2 separate regions of the Homo sapiens genome follow, and region 2 is linked to region 1. Evidence: fine-mapped expression QTL. A gene starts in region 1. The other region holds a variant in brackets. All regions are shown on one strand. Distances are from middle to middle. Region 1 holds the start of PTH1R (parathyroid hormone 1 receptor). Region 2 overlaps SETD2 (SET domain containing 2, histone lysine methyltransferase).

Evidence for each region. PIP is the estimated chance that this variant, and not a neighbour inherited with it, causes the effect. A credible set is the group of variants that fine-mapping cannot tell apart.
Region 2: its variant is the best candidate, but not a certain one, in a credible set for the expression of PTH1R in tibial nerve (GTEx, PIP 0.86).

The regions. Positions count from the first base shown.
Region 1 is chr3:46,872,688-46,881,963 of GRCh38, forward strand. PTH1R (parathyroid hormone 1 receptor) reads left to right here and starts at 5,034. Exons shown (of 16, transcript NM_000316.3): 1 at 5,034-5,156; 2 at 8,375-8,431. It also overlaps a transcript of MYL3 not described here. RefSeq lists an enhancer at 567-1,421.
Region 2 is chr3:47,114,184-47,122,183 of GRCh38, forward strand. SETD2 (SET domain containing 2, histone lysine methyltransferase) reads right to left here. Exons shown (of 21, transcript NM_014159.7): 3 at 5,999-8,000; 4 at 2,440-2,571. Among named protein-coding and RNA genes, the nearest start is that of SETD2, 46 kb to the right of the region's middle. RefSeq lists enhancers at 1-34, 35-543. The variant C/T (reference allele first, on the strand shown) is at 3,280.

The sequences.
Region 1 (9,276 bases):
GATGGGGGTCGAGGGTGGGTCCTCTCTGCCAGCTCCAGGTTCAGCTGCTGTCTCAGGGTTAGGCTCCAGCTCAACCCCTGGGGCTGCTCCCTGGCTTTCTGAGAAGATGCCGTCAGGCAGATTCCATCTCATAACGTTTCCTGGAGGAAAACGTTCCGACAATGAGCGTTCCAACAATGAAGGGATCTGTCTCTGATCCTGGGGCCTGCTCATGAGGAAACTGAGCCTACCCATGGCAACTGAGAGACAAAGAGGTAAGGGAGCAGGGTGTTTGGAATCCACAGCTCTGGCCAATAGGTGTGCCCTCCCCCAAGAGATGGAGGCTTCTCAGCAGAGCCACAGAGATAACCTAGCCCCTGTCCTCAAGGGCTCGCCGTCTATTGGGACAGAGGCAGCAGCATATCATGCCGTGCTAAATTTTCTAGTCATACCAGGAGGTCTGAGGTCTCACTCTGCTGGGAGTTGAAAGGTGCAGATCCAGGAAGGCTTCAGAGAGGAGGGGGCCTTTGGAGGGCATACAAGAGCCACCCAGGCAGAGAAGGGAAGGACAAGTCAGATGGCAAGAAGTGCAGGGGCAGAGGCCAAGAGCTCATGGAGGGTTCAGGGAATGGGAACACAGGGCAGTGGGGCCAGGCAGGGAGTTGGCTCCCCCAAACTCTTGAGTCTCTGCATCTCCCAGCTGAGCCCAACACACAGTAAGGTGCAGGCAGGGGCCACGGAAGGCAGGGCTGAGCTTGCAGAACACATTGTTCCTCCTCCTCCTCTTCTTCCTCCTCCTCTGTTTGCGAGGTCATCACTTCCTTGCCCCCCTCCACCCCCAAGGAGCCCTGTGTGGTTACGCTTGATTGGAAAAATTGATGTGGGGCCGCTGAGTTTAAGGGCGGGGGTGGTCACCCTTCCATCTTGAACCCAGCTCTGCTCGTTGGGCCAAGAGTGGCTTCCAGAGCCAGCTGTGCTGAGAGAGGGTGCTGCTGTGAGGACAGGATGTACTGGATGGCCCTGAGTTCAGTGCTCCAGTCCCTTGCCTCCACAGCCCCCACACCAGCTCAGGAAAGGAGTGCAGTGGGACTGGGGGAAGCCTAGACCACTGACCTCCCCAAAAAGATCATGACTAGTCCGGGAGGCAGAGAGGCCCCAGAGATAGAGCAGAGGTCAGGGCAGGCAGGAGCTGGGTGTGTGACTTTGGGCAGAGGCCTGACCTCACTGGGCCAGACCAGCTGCCAGTGTCCCCTCCAGCTTCAGGGAGGCATCTGAGTTATGCCTAGCCACCTCCCGTTAAGCCCAGAACCTCCTCCACACTGGCGACCCACCTGTGCCCAGTGAGAGCCCTTCGGCCTCTTCCAAAGAGGCTCACCTCAGAGGGCACGGGTGTCGGAAGGCCTGGAGACTTGCTCTGGATGAGCGGGGTGACCTCTGGCATGCCATTGCCCTTCTCTGGATGTCGCTTTCCCATACACGGTTTTATAAACTTCCCTGAGTGCTTCCCCTCTCCAGCCAGTTCAGCCAATGTCCACGGTGCCTCTGGGCCAGGCTTGGTGCAGCCTGCAGGATGGCCAGGCAGACACAACCCTGATTCCAGCCCTAGAGACATTCCCAGTGTCCGCCAGCTCATTGCCTTGCCCCAGCCAGTGTCCCCTGAGGCATTTAGAGTGAGAGGAAACTGAGGCCCAGAGATTTGGCAAGGCACGACAAAGGACCACCCACATAGAGGGTTCCTCCAGGCCTAACAGGGCAGGAGTGTCAGGACTAGGGGTTCTCCACTCGAGGGCTCCCGGCCACAGCCCCCGGCAAGGACCCAGTGTCTGAGCTAACCCCCTCCCCACCACCTCCTCCTTCCTGGCCCCCTCCTCCCTTCAAACCGCAGGGCCCAGCCGGCCTCTGGAACGCGTGCCCGGGACCTCGGTGATATTTTGAGTTTAAGAAAACTTTGCAGTCGGCAGGAGCTCTTAAAGGTTATAAATAGCAGCAGCGGGAGCCCATGCAGGGAGAGGCGGAAACACGTGTCAAACACGCCTGGGAGGGGGTATTCCGAGGCACAGACCCCCCCCCACACACACAATAGGGACGCACTAGGCTTCTGGGGATTTTACAACCACTGGAGCGGGAAATCACACTCTACCCAGAAGGCGTCTGGGAAACAGGACCCGCTTTGGACCCCCAACCAGTGTCCCCAGTGGCTGGCCAGGTTGCCCGGGCATGTGGGGGCACTGATGAAAGGGGATCTGGTGGGGAGGCCTTTCTCCTACCCCACTCCCCGCCACCATGCCACCAGGGATCTCCCTCAGAGCTGCCCTTGGGAACAGCAGGGCTGGGGGTGGGTTTGGAGAGAGTCCACTCTAACCCGTCTGTGGCAGGGAGAACTGAAGACCTGAGTGGGGACAGAATTGTTACCAGGTCATGGGAAAGCTGGACAAGATTTGGACCCCCAAGCCACAGTTCTTCCCATTGAACACTGTTGCTGCCTCCCTTCCATTTCCAGGGACCACGGGACGGTGCTCTAACTCACCCAAAGAAAGCACAGAGATGGGCACAAAGGTAACAACACGCAACACTGAGGGATGCAGACCTGAGGGCCCCATCCCTCAGCATCCAATCCCAGTGCTTCCCCTTCCGGTGAAGACCTCCTGCTGAACAGATGAGGAACAGACCAGAGACTTGCCCTACTCCAGTGGGATGCAAGCCCATGCCCACACTGCCAGGGAGTGGACTGTCAACAACCCAAGGCCAGGTATGCAGCCTCAGCAAGGACATCAGCTCCGCTTTGGACACAGCAGTCTCAGCCTTGCCTTGAGGGTCATGCAATTTGAGGACATGCCCTCAGGAGCCTAGTCTGAGGAGACACCCTTCTGGGGCCTGATCTAAGAGAAATCAGTTTTGATGGCCTCGTGGCCATGGAAGGAACCCTTCAACCTCCACCACCTCCCTGGATTTCCCAACTGCTCCACAATGTGCATGGGGCAAGAACTGTTACGACGCTGCAAATACCTGGAAACTCAGGCGAGTCTCAGGCTCCCACCCACCATCCCACTTATGCCTCACTCATGCCCCACCTGCTGCCCACAGCTCCCAGCAGGTCTGGGGGCGGCATCCAGCCTTGGCATCCAGGCGTTCTGAACCTCAGGGAGCCCCAAAGGGTTTATGGGTCTCCCAATGAATGGGAGCCTGTTGAGCTCGGAGGGGGCCGGGCCCGAGTAAACATGGCTGGGTCTGAGCTGCCATTCTCCCCCTACCTCTTCCCCAGAACCCAGGACCAAAATACAACTTCCTGTCCCCGGAGCTGAGGGCCAGACTTGCCCCCCAGAGCCCTGGGCTGGGGCCCACAGGAGGAACGCAAACTGGCAGGCCCAAGGCTCGAGGAGAGAAAGGCCTTCAGGTTTTCAGACTCCCAGGTCTGCTTGCATCCAAGACCCAAGTGCCTGGGCACTTTACAGATCCCCTTTGAGCCTGAAACTGCCCAACTGTTAACAACAGATCAGGAAACTGAGGCCATGAGCAGGAAGGCGTCTGGCTCAGGGATCCACAGGTCAAAGCAGAAAAGGCCCCAGCCTCCTGCTTCCCTGGCCAGTGAGGATGGGGCCTGTGGGCAGGGTAGGGCAGTGCATGTGGACTCAGGGGAGGTAGAGGCTCTGGCAGTCAAGAGCCAGGGCAACAGGGAGGCTTGACAGAGCACAGGGGAACTCTCCCTCCTTTGGGCACAACTGCCCACTGACCTCCGCTGGCCTGGTCACAGAATAGCCTACGTGTCCCAGGATACCCCTTGGAGCAGTGCACTTCAGAGTAGCTGGGGCAGGAGTCCCATAAGTGCTGTTTGTCATAGTTTCACTATGTCCCCTGGCCAGTCCATTCTGCTCTTTGGTCCCGTTTCCTCCACCTGGAGGCCAGGTATCACCGAGCCTGCCTCCCTGACTAACTTGTGAAACAAAAAGTACTTTGGAAACTCTAATGAGTGGTACCCTCCCCAGGAGCCTGGAAGACCCAGGGAGGGGGGCCCTAGGAATGTGCCCAATGGCTGGGGGTGGTTGGGGCCAGCTGCCTCACATGCAGGGCACTGGGGGCTACAGCTGGAATGTGCTGAGTGGCAGCTGCCACGTGAATCATTATACCTCATCAGGCTGAGCCTAGGACTTCCAGACACAAACCAGCTCAGACTGGGCTCAGGCAGAAGGGCAGCCTCCAGCCGGGTCACAGGGCCTGGGGGTGAGGTTTCTGGGATCTTGCAGGGTCTCTGCCTCCCTGTCTGCCCACATCTTCATCCTGAGCAACCAGCCCTGGTTCTGAACACAGCTCGTTCTACAGACCCACAGAGAGAAGTCATCCTGTCCACAGCCCCCTGCCTTTGAGACCTGTGACAGCTTAAGCAGACCCTGGGCCTGGAAGGGCCTGGGAGGCAGATAGGGAGGGCTTCCTGGCTGACTCCTCACCAGGAGCCCACATTCCAGTGGGCAAGGAGTCAGATATGAGGTGGCTGTGGGGCTGTAGGGGTCAGGACACGGGCTGGAGTGGAATGACGGCCCCCTCCATCTCTTCCGTCTAGGAGCCACTGGGTACCCAGTGCTGGCAGATCAGGCTTTCTTGGGCCTCAGTTTTCCTGCCTGTGACACAGGCAAGAACCACCTCCAGCCCCCCTCTGATTTCTCTGGGTGCCTTAAACTTGAGTGAAGTCACTAGTAGGGGCTGTGTTCATACCTCGTGGCAGCCTGATATTCCTGAGATGTGGAAAGGACCAGAGGGTTAGACAGGGACACAGAGACTAAGAGAGAGGCATGGCAGGGCAAGGAGAGGACTATTGAGGCACACACACGTGTCTGGCAGCCTGAGTGGGCCCAGTTACCTGGCAGGCAGACCCATGGGTGCTGAGGGGAGGGCCCAGCCCTGGGCATCTGAACACCGGCACACTTGGATCTGCCTCTGTTGCCTCCTACTCCTGACTAGGAGCCTGGGACAAAGTCCTGGGCCAGTGTAGGGCTTGGTAAAAAATAATTAATTTTCTTTTCAAGTGGAAGCTCTGACTCAGGTCTTTTCTTGTCCCCAGCAGCACTATCCTTGCTTAGGCCTGAGCCACAGAAGCTGCTCAGGGACTATCCATGGCCTCCCCGTGGCCAACTTGAGTCTGCTCTGCAGCTTTAGGCCCGACTTGGAAGGCCCATGGGCTGCAGGTGAGTGGGGGCCAGGGGAGCCTAGGGGCCTGAGCACAGCTGGGAAGCCCAAGTCTGTGGTTTCCCTGGGGGTGAGTGTCTAAATACCTGGGCCGTGCTATGGGGCAGACAAGACATGCCCGCATGGAGACACATCTGTGGACCTGGTGTTATGACAGCAGGGGGCTTGTAACCATGAGGCCAGCAGGGACAGAAAGCCCATACCTCTAGCTCCTTGGGAGCCTTAGGAGTGCTCCCTGGTTGGGACAGAGCCTGCTGGCCCCAGGTGCCCCCATCGCCCCTCCCTTCACCTTCCTGAGAGGCAAGAAAGCCAGGCAGCCATGCTTCTGCTGCAAGGGAAGGGGGCTACCCAGCCAGCTGCCATGGGAGCCTCCAGCGACTCAGCTGGGTGTCAGGGGGTGTTTATGAGCAGCCGAAATGGCTGTAAAAGTGGCACCTCGCTTCACTTATGGCCTAGCCATCCCCTCCCCTACTGGGCTCTTGCCTCAAAAAGTTTCCAGAGGGGCCTAGAAGCCGAGAGAGGTCTGGGGTTGAGGGCTGGGTGGAGGCACAACCTGGGGTCAGAGTTCAGCCAGGGGCTAGAAATCAGACTGGGATAAGAACTCAGCCTGAGGCTGGGGCTCATGATGGAGATAGAGCTCAGTCTGGGATCAGGGCTAAGCTTGGATGCAGCCTGACTTTGGGGCTAGTGTTGGGATGAAGCACTGGGGAAATATAAGGACTCAGAAATAGATGTGAGCCATTAGTCCCAGAGAACCCCTGGTCTGGCCAAGGGGTTTTCTGAGGGAGGAAGGCCAGGCTGCATTGCTCAGACAGCTGAGCCTCTTGCCTTGCTTGTTGGTGTCTGATGCCCACCCTGGCCCCAGGGTCTGTGTACCTTGGCCAGAGCCCTACTCACGGTGGGATGGCTGCAGCAGAGGCCTGTCAGCCTGGGGCTGCCACACCAGCAGGGGTGGGGCCAGAGTCTGGCCCCTACTGCAGTTCTGAGATCCAGTGACCACCCTGGCTCCTCCTCCTAGGCCCCAGCCTGGGGATTAGAGACAGGGACTCACTCCTACTCCCCACCCCCAGCCAGGCCTTTTCAAACCCCATTGAAACTAACACTGACCTGACACTAACCAGAAACTGACTCTGAGCCCCTGGGGCGTGCTTGTCAAAAAGGGCAAGCTGACTCTGCCAGGTGCTTGGGTGCTACCAGTTAATGTGTGACACCCCCACCCTCATGGTAGCACTTTAACCAGAGGCCCGAGGGTGAGAGAGATGATCTGTGGCCCCACCCACAGCTGTGGAATGTCCAGCAGGGGACTCTGGGGTGAGGCACATGAGTTATGGCAGGAGGAATGCCCTTAAGGGACCCAGCACCCATCAGATTCCTCTCTGCAGCCCTCTCCACAGCCCACCCTCATCCTCCCAAGTACAAGTAGTATGTTTCCAAATCTCAAGTTTTCCCTGGTGTCAGATCTGAAAAGAACTCCTCCCCTCAGCCTCTAGTTTTATCTCTCAGTCCTTCCAATCCCTCCATTAATGTTCTTTTCTCATCACCAAGGGGGAAAGCAGGGTGGAAGATCAGTGGTCACAGAACCATAAAACTTAGAGACACTTAGAAACAGAGGCATAGGCCAGGTGCGGTGGTTCATGCCTGTAATCCCAGCACTTTGGGAGGCCGAGGCAGGAGGACTGCTTGAGCCCAAGAGTTGGAGACCAGTCTAGGCAACAAAGTGAGACCTCGTCTCTACAAAAAAAAAATTTTTTAATTACCCAGGTGTGGTAGCTCATGCCTGTGGTGCCAGCTACATGAGAGGCTGAGGTGAGAGGATTGCTTGAGCCCAGGAGGTCAAGGCTGCTGTGAGCCATGACCGTGCCACTGCACTCCAGCCTGGGTGACACAGCAAGACCCTGTCTGGGGAAAAAAAAAATGCTGCGTGTGGTGGCTCACGCTTGTAATCTCAACACTTTGGGAGGCCGAGACAGGATCACTTGAGGCCAGGAGTTTGAAACCAGCCTGGCCAACATGGAGAAACCCCATCTCCACTACAAATGCAAAAATTAGCCAGGCGTGGTGGTGCACAACTATAATGCCAGCTACTCAGGAGGCTGAGGCCAGAGAATTGCTTGAACCCGGGAGGTGGAGGTTGCAGTCAGCCGAGATCGCACCACTGCACTCCAGCCTGGCCAACAGCCCTGTCTCAAAAAAGAAAAGAAACAGAGGCATAATAAAGCTGAGACCATTAAAATATAACACTGAAGAACCACAAGTGTTCTTTAGGTGCCCATTCTGGCACCTGGGCCTCCGTCCCAAGGAGGCTACATACCATAGGAGGCAGCCCTGAAATCACAACCTCCCTCCCCAGTAACGGAGGATGTGGGCACACAAGGAGGGAGGGGAGTGTCCTTTACACCAGGCAGAAGAGTATGATCCTGGCAGAGGAAGCAGCAAGGACAAAGGCAGGAGAGTGGATGTGTGAAGAAGACCAGGAGTCTAGCAGACAGTTCCTGTTAGGGAGAGTCATTTTTGGAGGAAACTGTCTCAAATAGCACAGCCCTTGAACACCAGAAAAAGAAATGAGGGCAGTGGGCACAGAGAAGGGAGGCAGCCATAGAAATGCATGGGGAGGGCCAAGGCTGGTGGTTCATACCTGTAATCCCAGCACTTTGGGAGGCTGAGGCAGGTGGATCACTTGAGGTCAGGGGTTCGTGACCAGCCTGGTCAACATGGTGAAACCCCGTCTCTACCAAGAAATGCAAAAATTAGCCAGGTTGGTGGTACACACCTGTAGTCCCAGCTACTTGGGAGAATCACTTGAGCCTGGGAAGCGGAGGTTGCAGTGAGCAGAGATCATGCCACTGGACTCCAGCCTGGGTGACAAAGTGAGACTTTGTCTTGAAGAAGAAGAAGAAGGAGAAGGAGAAGAAAGAAGAAGAAAGTAGCAGCAGAAGAAATACATGGGGAATGCACCTGGGAGTGCAGTCTGGAAGCTGGATGGGCTTGAGCCAGCAGAAGGGTGGCTGCAGCTGGATCCTAGGCCTTAGGACTTGGGCTTGACAGATTTGCACTGAGGGTTGGAGGGCAGGTTTGCAGGCTCCGAGGAGCTCAATATCCACAGGCTGAGTCTTGAGAGCCCCTGGAGCCCATGGGCCAGGATGCCCACCCTCGTGGAAACTAAACAGTAAAGTTAACATTGCCCTTGAATCAGCTGGCCAACCTCTCCATTTTGCAGATGAGGAAACTGAGGTCCAGACAGCCGAAGAGTGGTAGTGTCCAGGACACACAACTGGTAAGCGGGCAAGCACAGGCTGTTGCTTAGCCCAGACTCATTTCCCAGGGCCTCATGCATTCGCTTCCTCCGCGATCCTTAAAGCCCTGCGCTCCAGGCATCCCCAGCCCCTCCCTCTGCCTCAGTTTCCCCACTTGGTACCGGGAGGTGGTAGGTTTGGGGTCGAAGGGCCCCTCCTCTTAGAGCTCCAGCGTGCCCTCCCCAGCCAAACACAGAAATCCCGCCCCGTTCAGCCCCAACCCCCGCGGACTCCTCCTTGCCTTCCCCTAAGTCGAGGGTCCCAGGCGGCCCGGTCCGAGCCGGCCGATAGCTTTTGGGAGTGGGGGTGGGAACGGGGGAGGGAGGTGAAGCCTGAGAGTGGGTGTCTGGATTGAGCCCCAGGTCTGGCAGCCTCGAGCCTCCGGGGTTGGGGCTGGGCAAGCTGGAGAGGCCCGGCCAGCAGCTGAATGGGTCGAGACTCGGAGACCCGGACCCGAAGAGACGCTGGGCAGGGAGGGAGCGGGATGTGTGGCTGCAGACCTGGGCGGGGGTCGGGGCTGGCCTAGGGCCGAGAGGAACGACAGGCCTGGGATGGGACTGAGGGCAGGGGACGAGGCGAGGGTGGGGCTGGACGTGGGGGAGGGCGGCAGCAGCCAAGCCGGGCTCGGGGCTGGCAGCCGAGCGGCCTCCCCAGGGACCCCGACCCGGCCCGAACGGGAGCCCAGTGGACTGACAGCGTCGCGGCCGGGGGCGCGCGGGGGTACCGGGCAGCCTCCTCAGGGGATTCGCCCATGATGAAAGAGGGCTCGCTTCTCGGCTCAGGGTCTCTATTCGCCAGCGGGGGCCGGATGATCAAGGGAAAAAAA
Region 2 (8,000 bases), 240 kb after region 1:
TGAGTATCTACATTGTTACTTAAACAGATCATACCCACAATACAGCCTTGATATCTGGTCATCACAGAAATATCTACCACTCCCTAGGTGTCTAGAATACATTTTCAGGCTGCATGTAAGCTTTCAGTACATTGACAACTCTGCAGAACTTATATTCTGTAAGTGCACCTTCCCTTCCTTCTACTCTAATCACTTTTAATTTCATTTTTTGAATGCAGCTAACTACTTGATCTACAATTGAGAAAATCTAAAGTCATTATTAAATATATCCTTGTTCAGAGTAAACAGAATAACATGGCATGGCTCTTCTCCCATGGATCCTAGAGTAAAAATGATAAAATCGAACACTGATTGACTTCTTAATATGTGATAGATATAAAGGTTTTAACGATGATTAAAACTACACCAGAGGGGGCTGAGTACGGTGATTCATGCCTGTAATCCCAGCACTTTGGGAGGCCAAGGCAGGTGGATCACTTGAGGTCAGGAATTCAAGACCACCCTCGCCAACATAGTGAAATCCTGTCTCTCTGAAAAATACAAAAATTAGCCGGGCATGATGGTGCACGCCTGTAATCCCAGCTACTTGGGAGGCTGAGGCAGGAGAATTGTTTGAACCCAGGAGGCAGAGGTTGTAGTGAGTCAAGATTGTGCCACTGCACTCTAGCCTGGGCGACAGAGGGAGACTGTCTCAAAAAAAAAAAAAAAAAAAAAAGACCACTGGAAATTACCAATCATTTTGAATATATTATTATTTATTGCCCACCCAGCAGCAAATAACATTTTTAGCAATGGTCAAAGGATGAAGGATTTGCTCTAGAGTGAGGCAGTATAAAGGAAAGCTTTCAGGAGGGAAGAGAATTTAAGGCAGAATCTCTAATGATACATAGGATATGCATAAAGAAAGCTGGAGATACAACTGTCCCTGTCTGTGTGCAGAAATAGGAAAACAATCCCTGTTTGGACAAAGAGAAATGAAACAACTAAAGATAACTGATAAGAAAGGTGAGTTGCTGGAGGATGAAAAGACAGGCTGATGATATGCTACCAAGGGCTCTGAATACAAGGCTAAGTTTGAACCTAATCATGAGAACAACCGAGAACTACCAAAAGCTTAAGTGTGTGAATAATATGAAGAAATATTTTTCTTCATGTATGCTTCACAAGGTTGGCAGGAAAACCCAGAAGAATGACTAGGGCAACAATATGAAGTTAGAATAATGCTAACTCTATGTCTTCTCTTCTTACATCTGTACTGTCATCTCTCTCTCTAGTTTGGATAAAAGAATACCAAAAATCCTTTCTCTTTATTTTTTCAAGGTATATATATTTTATTTTTGCAACACTATAACATGAGCAAAACCAAAAACTGAGCTTTGGGGAAAAAAAACCTTCACTAACATCAAAAATAAGGTATACTCTTTCCATGTAAAAGACAAGAATATATTTTTCATCAATCAGATTGGTTAAAAAAATTTTTTTGAGACAACATCTCGCTCTGTCACCCAGGCTGGAGTATAGTGGAATGACAGCTCACTGCAAGCTCCACCTCCTGGGTTCAAGTGCTTCTCCTGCCTCAGCCTCCAGAGTAGCTGGGATTACAGGTGTGTGTCATCATGCCTGGCTAATTTTTGTATTTTTTAGTAGAGATGGGGTTTCACCATGTTGGCCAGGCTGATCCTAAACTCCTGGCCTCAAGTGATCTGCCCGCCTCAGCCTCCCAAATAGCTGGGATTACAGGCATGAGCCACTACGCCTGGCCAAAATTAAATTTTTTAATGTAAAGATATTTACTATTTATAAGAACAATACAGAAGCAAATGTCTGTCAACAGACTAATTACCGGCTAACTATGAATAGAATACATAATGCAGTCAAGAGAAAGATTTAGGCAGGTCTGTACACAGAGCTCTGATTAGGTCTGATTAGCAAATCCAAGCAAGTATATAGAATAAGATTTTATCTGTATACATAAAAAGAGGAAAACATCTACCTATGCTAGCATAGGCATTAAAAGTTTTCTGGAAAAATGACAAAACAATGGGACTGATGTTTGGGAGAAGACATTCACTTTATGCATTTCTGAAATGTTAGGGTTTTATTTCACTTTATAGTGAAAGCTAAAAAATACCAACATTTACCTCTAGGACATAAATATTATAAAAGATAAAAAAGTACTGAATAGAAATTAATATTATAGGACTACTTTACCAAGCACTTAAAACATGGTGGGTACTGTAATCTAATGCACAATGCAAGGGATATTTGTTTCCCTATTAATATGTTTTCTACTATACATCAAAGTGTCTACTATACTTTTTTGCTTGTAGTCATCCATAGGTAGGAGAAAGGTTAAATTTTATTCTTCATTGATAATTCAATATTTAGAGACATTTAATAGAAGTGTTGAGCAAAAGCCGAGTATTCTAATTTACTTACCATTCAATCATGAGAAGACGATTAAGACAATCTTCCCCACATGCTATTTCACCTTGAGCTCTTTCATCTTTAGAAAGAGGTGTACACTCACACTGCATTCGCTTAATATCTCGATGAGATTTATTCTTCTTTCTATTGGGTAAAATTTCATAAAAACTGATTAAATAAATTTCCTGGTAAAGATATAACATATATAATCAAATATGTGCCAAATCTCATTAGATTCTTTTGGGTTTTTTTAAACAGGGTCTTGTTCTGTCACCCAGGCCAGGGTGCAGTGATGCGATCATGGCTCACTGCAGCCTCAACCTCCTGGATTCAAATGACCCTCCCACTTCCACCTCCTGAATAGCTGGGACCACAGCTCATGCCACCACGCTTGGTTTTTGTTATTGTTGTTGTTTGTTTGTTCTTTAATATTCTGTAGAGACAGGGTCTCTCTATGTTACTCAAGCTGGTCTTGAACTCCTGGGCTCAAGAAATTCCCCTGCCTCCACTTCCCAAAGTGCTGCAATCGCAGGCATGATCCACTACGCCTGGCTAGATTCACATTTAATGATTCCTGTAAGTCAACCATTCAAAATAAAACATCTAATTATTAGTACTTGTGAGACTGAAAATCCTAAGACCTGCATTACCAAAAAAAAAAAAAAAAAAACAAACAAAAAAAAAAACATGAGAAGGGCAACCTTAACCTTGGCAAATGGGGAAGATGAGATGAGTTCAAGACTACTCATTCTGGAACTCAGCCCTTATTTCCTACTCCAGGTCAGCTAAGCCTTGGATTCAGAACAGTTTCAAGTGTTAAAGTCATACTAGGTTCTAGGAAAAATAGGAAAA[C/T]TCATGCATTTCAAATAGTGACATAGCTGGTTAAAGTTAAGTTTAAGAATCAGACCTCATGGATGAGCAAATAATAGTTGAGATATAAGATTGAGGGAGAAAAGGGGTTTCTAAAAAAATAAGAGTGAGTTCTAACTCAATCCAATATTTTAGAGAATCTTTCAGTAACATCACATCTGCATAAATTTTGTTTAAAAGCAGACTGAATTTTTTAAATGAAGTGTAATTACAGAATAATCAGGTAAATGTTTAAGAGGGCTCAACTTTCTCCATGCAGACAGATTTATTTTGGAGAAGAACATAAACTGCTAAAATTTGATTGCGTTCATAATAAGCCATGCCAGAGTGTGCAAAGCAAAAGTGAAAATGTGATTATTTATTGGCCTTTTTGCTGATGAACTAGTCTTTTACCCTGGTCTAAAAACAAAACAAAACAACCAAAGATGGTCAAAAAAGATCTGTTATGTTTAAGATTAGGGAACTATAAGAACTATAACTCACTCTTTGACTATCAAACAGGAAACAGCATAGCTGCTCTAAATGGTTATCTAATCTCCTACCTCTAATCTGCTTTGATCTTCAACATATGTTCTATTCTAGTGCCAATTTTATGAAGTGCCTCAAGAGTGTTATGATAGTTTTAACTAAGTTTAGGTGAAAAGAATGATTCCTCTTGATTAAAGACACAATTCGTTAATGAGTATATGAATATGCTTAGCCTGAAGATGACTAAACGAAATTATCTATTTAGAAGTACTTAGCTACAATTTTGAAGAATCAGCAGCAGCTTTATTTTGTATTGCTCTAGAAGGCTGGAATAGGACGAATGGGCATAGATTTTGGCAGGTAAGCCCTTTTCCATTAAACATAAGAAAAATGTTTTCATTATATTCATATTATTTTTTATAAGAGTTTGTCTTCTTAGTGGCTCCTAAATGCCTAGCATATAACAGGCACTTCAAAATTTTGAATATATAGGCCAGGCGTGGTAGCTCACGCCTGTAATCCCAGTACTTTGGGAGGCTGAGACGGGCGGATCACCTGAGGTCAGGAGTTCGAGACCAGCCTGGCCAACATGGTGAAACCCATCTCTACTAAAAATACAAAAATTAGCTGGGCGTGGTGGCACCCGGCAGAGGTTGCAGTGAGCTGAGATCACGCCACTGCACTCCACCCTGGGAGACAAAGTGAGACTCTGTCTCAAAAAAAAAAAAAAAAAGTTAAATATATATAAATCCTTCCCACTGCAAAGTGGTGGAAGCCCTCTTATGCCTCCACTAACCAAATCTATGTGCACAGTTTTATATATATATATCTGATTCTCAATGCTAAAGAAAAGTCAGAGAATTGGACTGATTAGTTTTATTTATATTCTTTTACAAAGATCTTGTAAGTTCCATTAGTCTACTCACACAATTCCTAAAGGGTACTACTTAAAATATTGAATATTTTAAATGTAAACTTAATTTATAACTAGATATAAATGAAAATAGCTGTAAAAGGCTCTCTGTTAAAAGGTTATTTTGTAATAGAAAAAAATTTCTGGTAGGACCTACCTTTAAAATTAAGTCTTTTACCTTATACACAGAGGAAAATTTGATTTAATAACATTTTGATCCTTAAAGATACAATGGCTAGGTTGATTCTCAACTAGCAGGAAAACTTCCAAAAAAGGAGAGTAAGGGGGCAGGATACTTTTTGTTTTGGTTTTTTAAGCACAATCAATATAAATTTACATCAGGAAAATGAGAAAATTATCAAGGAGGGGTTAAAGTTAAAACAGACTGAGAAGCCCTGCTCTAGAGGACTATGTTTTCATTACTCTTATTCTCATTATAATTTGTTTCATGTTAGGGATTTTTTGATAAACCACTTTATCATTTCTAAAATATTTATTACACTATTGCCAGATTTAATCTATTAACAATAGTCTAAAAAAAAATGAGAGAAGAAAATTATGTTCTAGTCTAGTTCTAACTTTATAAGTACCTGATATGGTTTGGCTGTTTCCCCACCCAAACTCAACTTGAGGAGGTAACTGAATCATGGGGGCCGGCCTTTCTCGTGTTATTCTTGTGATGGTGATTAAGTCACACAAGATCTGATGGGTTTATCAAGGGTTTTCACTTTTGCTTCTTCCTCTTTTTCTCTTGCCACCACCATGTAAGAAGTGCCTTTTGCCTCCTGCCGCAATTCTGAGGCCTCCCCAGCCATGTGGAACTGCAAGTCCAATTAAACCTCTTTTTCTTCCCAGTCTCGGGTATGTCTTTATCAGCAGCATGAAAACGGACTAATACAGTACCCAAAGATACTTCATTCTGCACATTTTTGAAAATAAAATCCAAAGTAACCACTTTTTTCTTCTCTAAGTACAGATTATTTTGCTGGGGTTTTATTCTGTTTTTTTGGTCAGACTTTCACATGTAAAAGGAATTACAGAAATACTGGGCTAGCCTAAATTGTACCTTGAAAACCAAACAAGTAATGAAAGAAAAAAATAGACATCTCCTTTCCTGGGGATGGGGCGGCGGGGGGAATGGGGAAAGGAATCTATACTATCAAATCTAAATAGGTAAAAACACTTTTTTAGACTTTTAAATTTACTTTATCCCACAACTCTTTCATGTGTTTAATCTCATACAGTCTGAATTGTTTAAAGGCTTTTTCTAACAACAAAAAAAGAGTTAAAATTTGTCAAACAAGTATTAATTAGACTTACCTTTCTGTTAAATAAACATTTTCTTCAATAAGATCAAAGTAACATGGCATTTTCCCTTGCTTGGCACATTCCTTCCATCGCTGTGGGTCCCTGAAGTCATCCATGACACAGGAGGGCCCAACCAGTGCTGAACCTGGGGGCACTGATGTCTCTCCCTGCTCTACCTCCACTCTAACTTTCTTTCTGTCCTGAAGCTCACCATCACTTTCAGAATCACTCTCTATTTCCTGCCTCCTTTTTTTAAGAGGCCCTCTATCTTTGATATCATTTTTTTCTAAGTTTTTTGAAAAATCTTTCTTTTCATTCACAGCTAAAGTGTCCTTAATGGAATTGCTGCTTATTTCAGGTGCTTGCACTGACCCCTTGTCTTTCTGAAGGGATAGAAGAAATTTATCGGACTGGTCTGAAAAATGGGATCCATCCTGTTGATCCCAATTCTCCTCTTCTTCACGATCATCTGTTAGGGAATCTGGTACTTGTCCTTGAGTTCGATCATACACAACCCCAGTTCCAGGAGGTCTACCTGATCTTGGATCCCAGTAACCATTGCCTTGCCAGTAATCACGTGTCCCACCATACTGTTCTGCATTTTGCTGATACTTGTGTCCACCACAAGCTCCATAGCTACTGTCAGGTTGCTGATACGTGGTAGAAGGCTTTTCTTGAGAGAAGTCCCAACCTAAGTTTCTGAGCTCTTCTGATGAGTGCAAGCCATCCACATGTGGTATCTCACAAGAGGAAGAAAAACTCAATTCTGTTTTTCCCAGTCTACTATCTGGCCTGTTTTGGAAAGTGGTCTGTTGCCAAGACTTATTTGGGACATCTTCAAAATCAGAAGAATAAATTGGCAGCTCTTCTTGCTGCCTAGAAGGTATTTTGGCTTTCACGGTTTCCTCTGAATTTGGGTGACCCAGAGGGTCAGATTTCACATCTGTATGACTTGTACTATCAACCCCATCACTCTGAGGATGAGAAAGTTCAGGCAGGCGATTATCTATTTGTTTTCTACTGGACTGTGTAAAAGAAATTTCCGGATTCTTCTCTGTTCCTTTATGAAGGAAAAACTTATCAGTTTGAGGACAGGCTTTACTTGCTATACTTTCAAATTTTTCCTCATACAAATGTCTCCTTGACTCCAATCTCTCATCTTCCCAATGGTCAGAATAGTGTCTATAACTTTGACTGCTCCGAGAAGAACAAGGACTTGTTTCTTCCATGGGCAAAGTAGAATTCTTTGGCACAACCACAACAGACTGGAGACGGTTTCTTGGAATACTGCTATCATCCGAATCTGTATCTTCTGAATCACTTTCATCATTTGAACTTTCAGAAGAGCCAGAATAATCTTCATGAACTGTAGACACAATTTCTGGGGCATGACCACTACTGTCACACTTTAATGCATAAGTTACACCATCACTGTCTTCCATGGTTAAATTCAAATCACAAGAAGAAAATACAACTTCTGAGTCATCAGAAGTATGCACATGTCCTCCTTCTCCTCTTTCATCTAAAGAGATTTCTGGTCTTCCTCTTCTTTCAGGCAATATGGAATTCCCTTCTTCTTGAGCCTCTTGCAAACATTTCCCAGATAACCCATTATTACGCCTGTTCTCCCTGGAAGCAAATCCCTTTCCTGAATCAGGAAGGTCACTACCTACTTCTACTATTGTTTCTTTCCCTGCATGCTTTAAAAACTCTGAACTTTTTTTACTCTTTAGCACTGCATCCAGAACTGGAGATGTGTTCTCTCCGCATTTCAAGAGAGTTAGACTGTCCACCTTTATTCCTGGTGGAAGACTCTGAAGAGATGAAGCAATACCTGAACTCCCAATAGGTTGATATAAATCATCAAAATGATTAACAGAAGCTGAACTAGTGCTACCGATGCTCTGCTTATATTCTTCACATGCAAATTTTGAGTGATCTGTCAAATTTCTACTATCACATATAACTGGTTTTGATTCCAAATGCACATTCATAAAGCTATTTGAAGAAATCT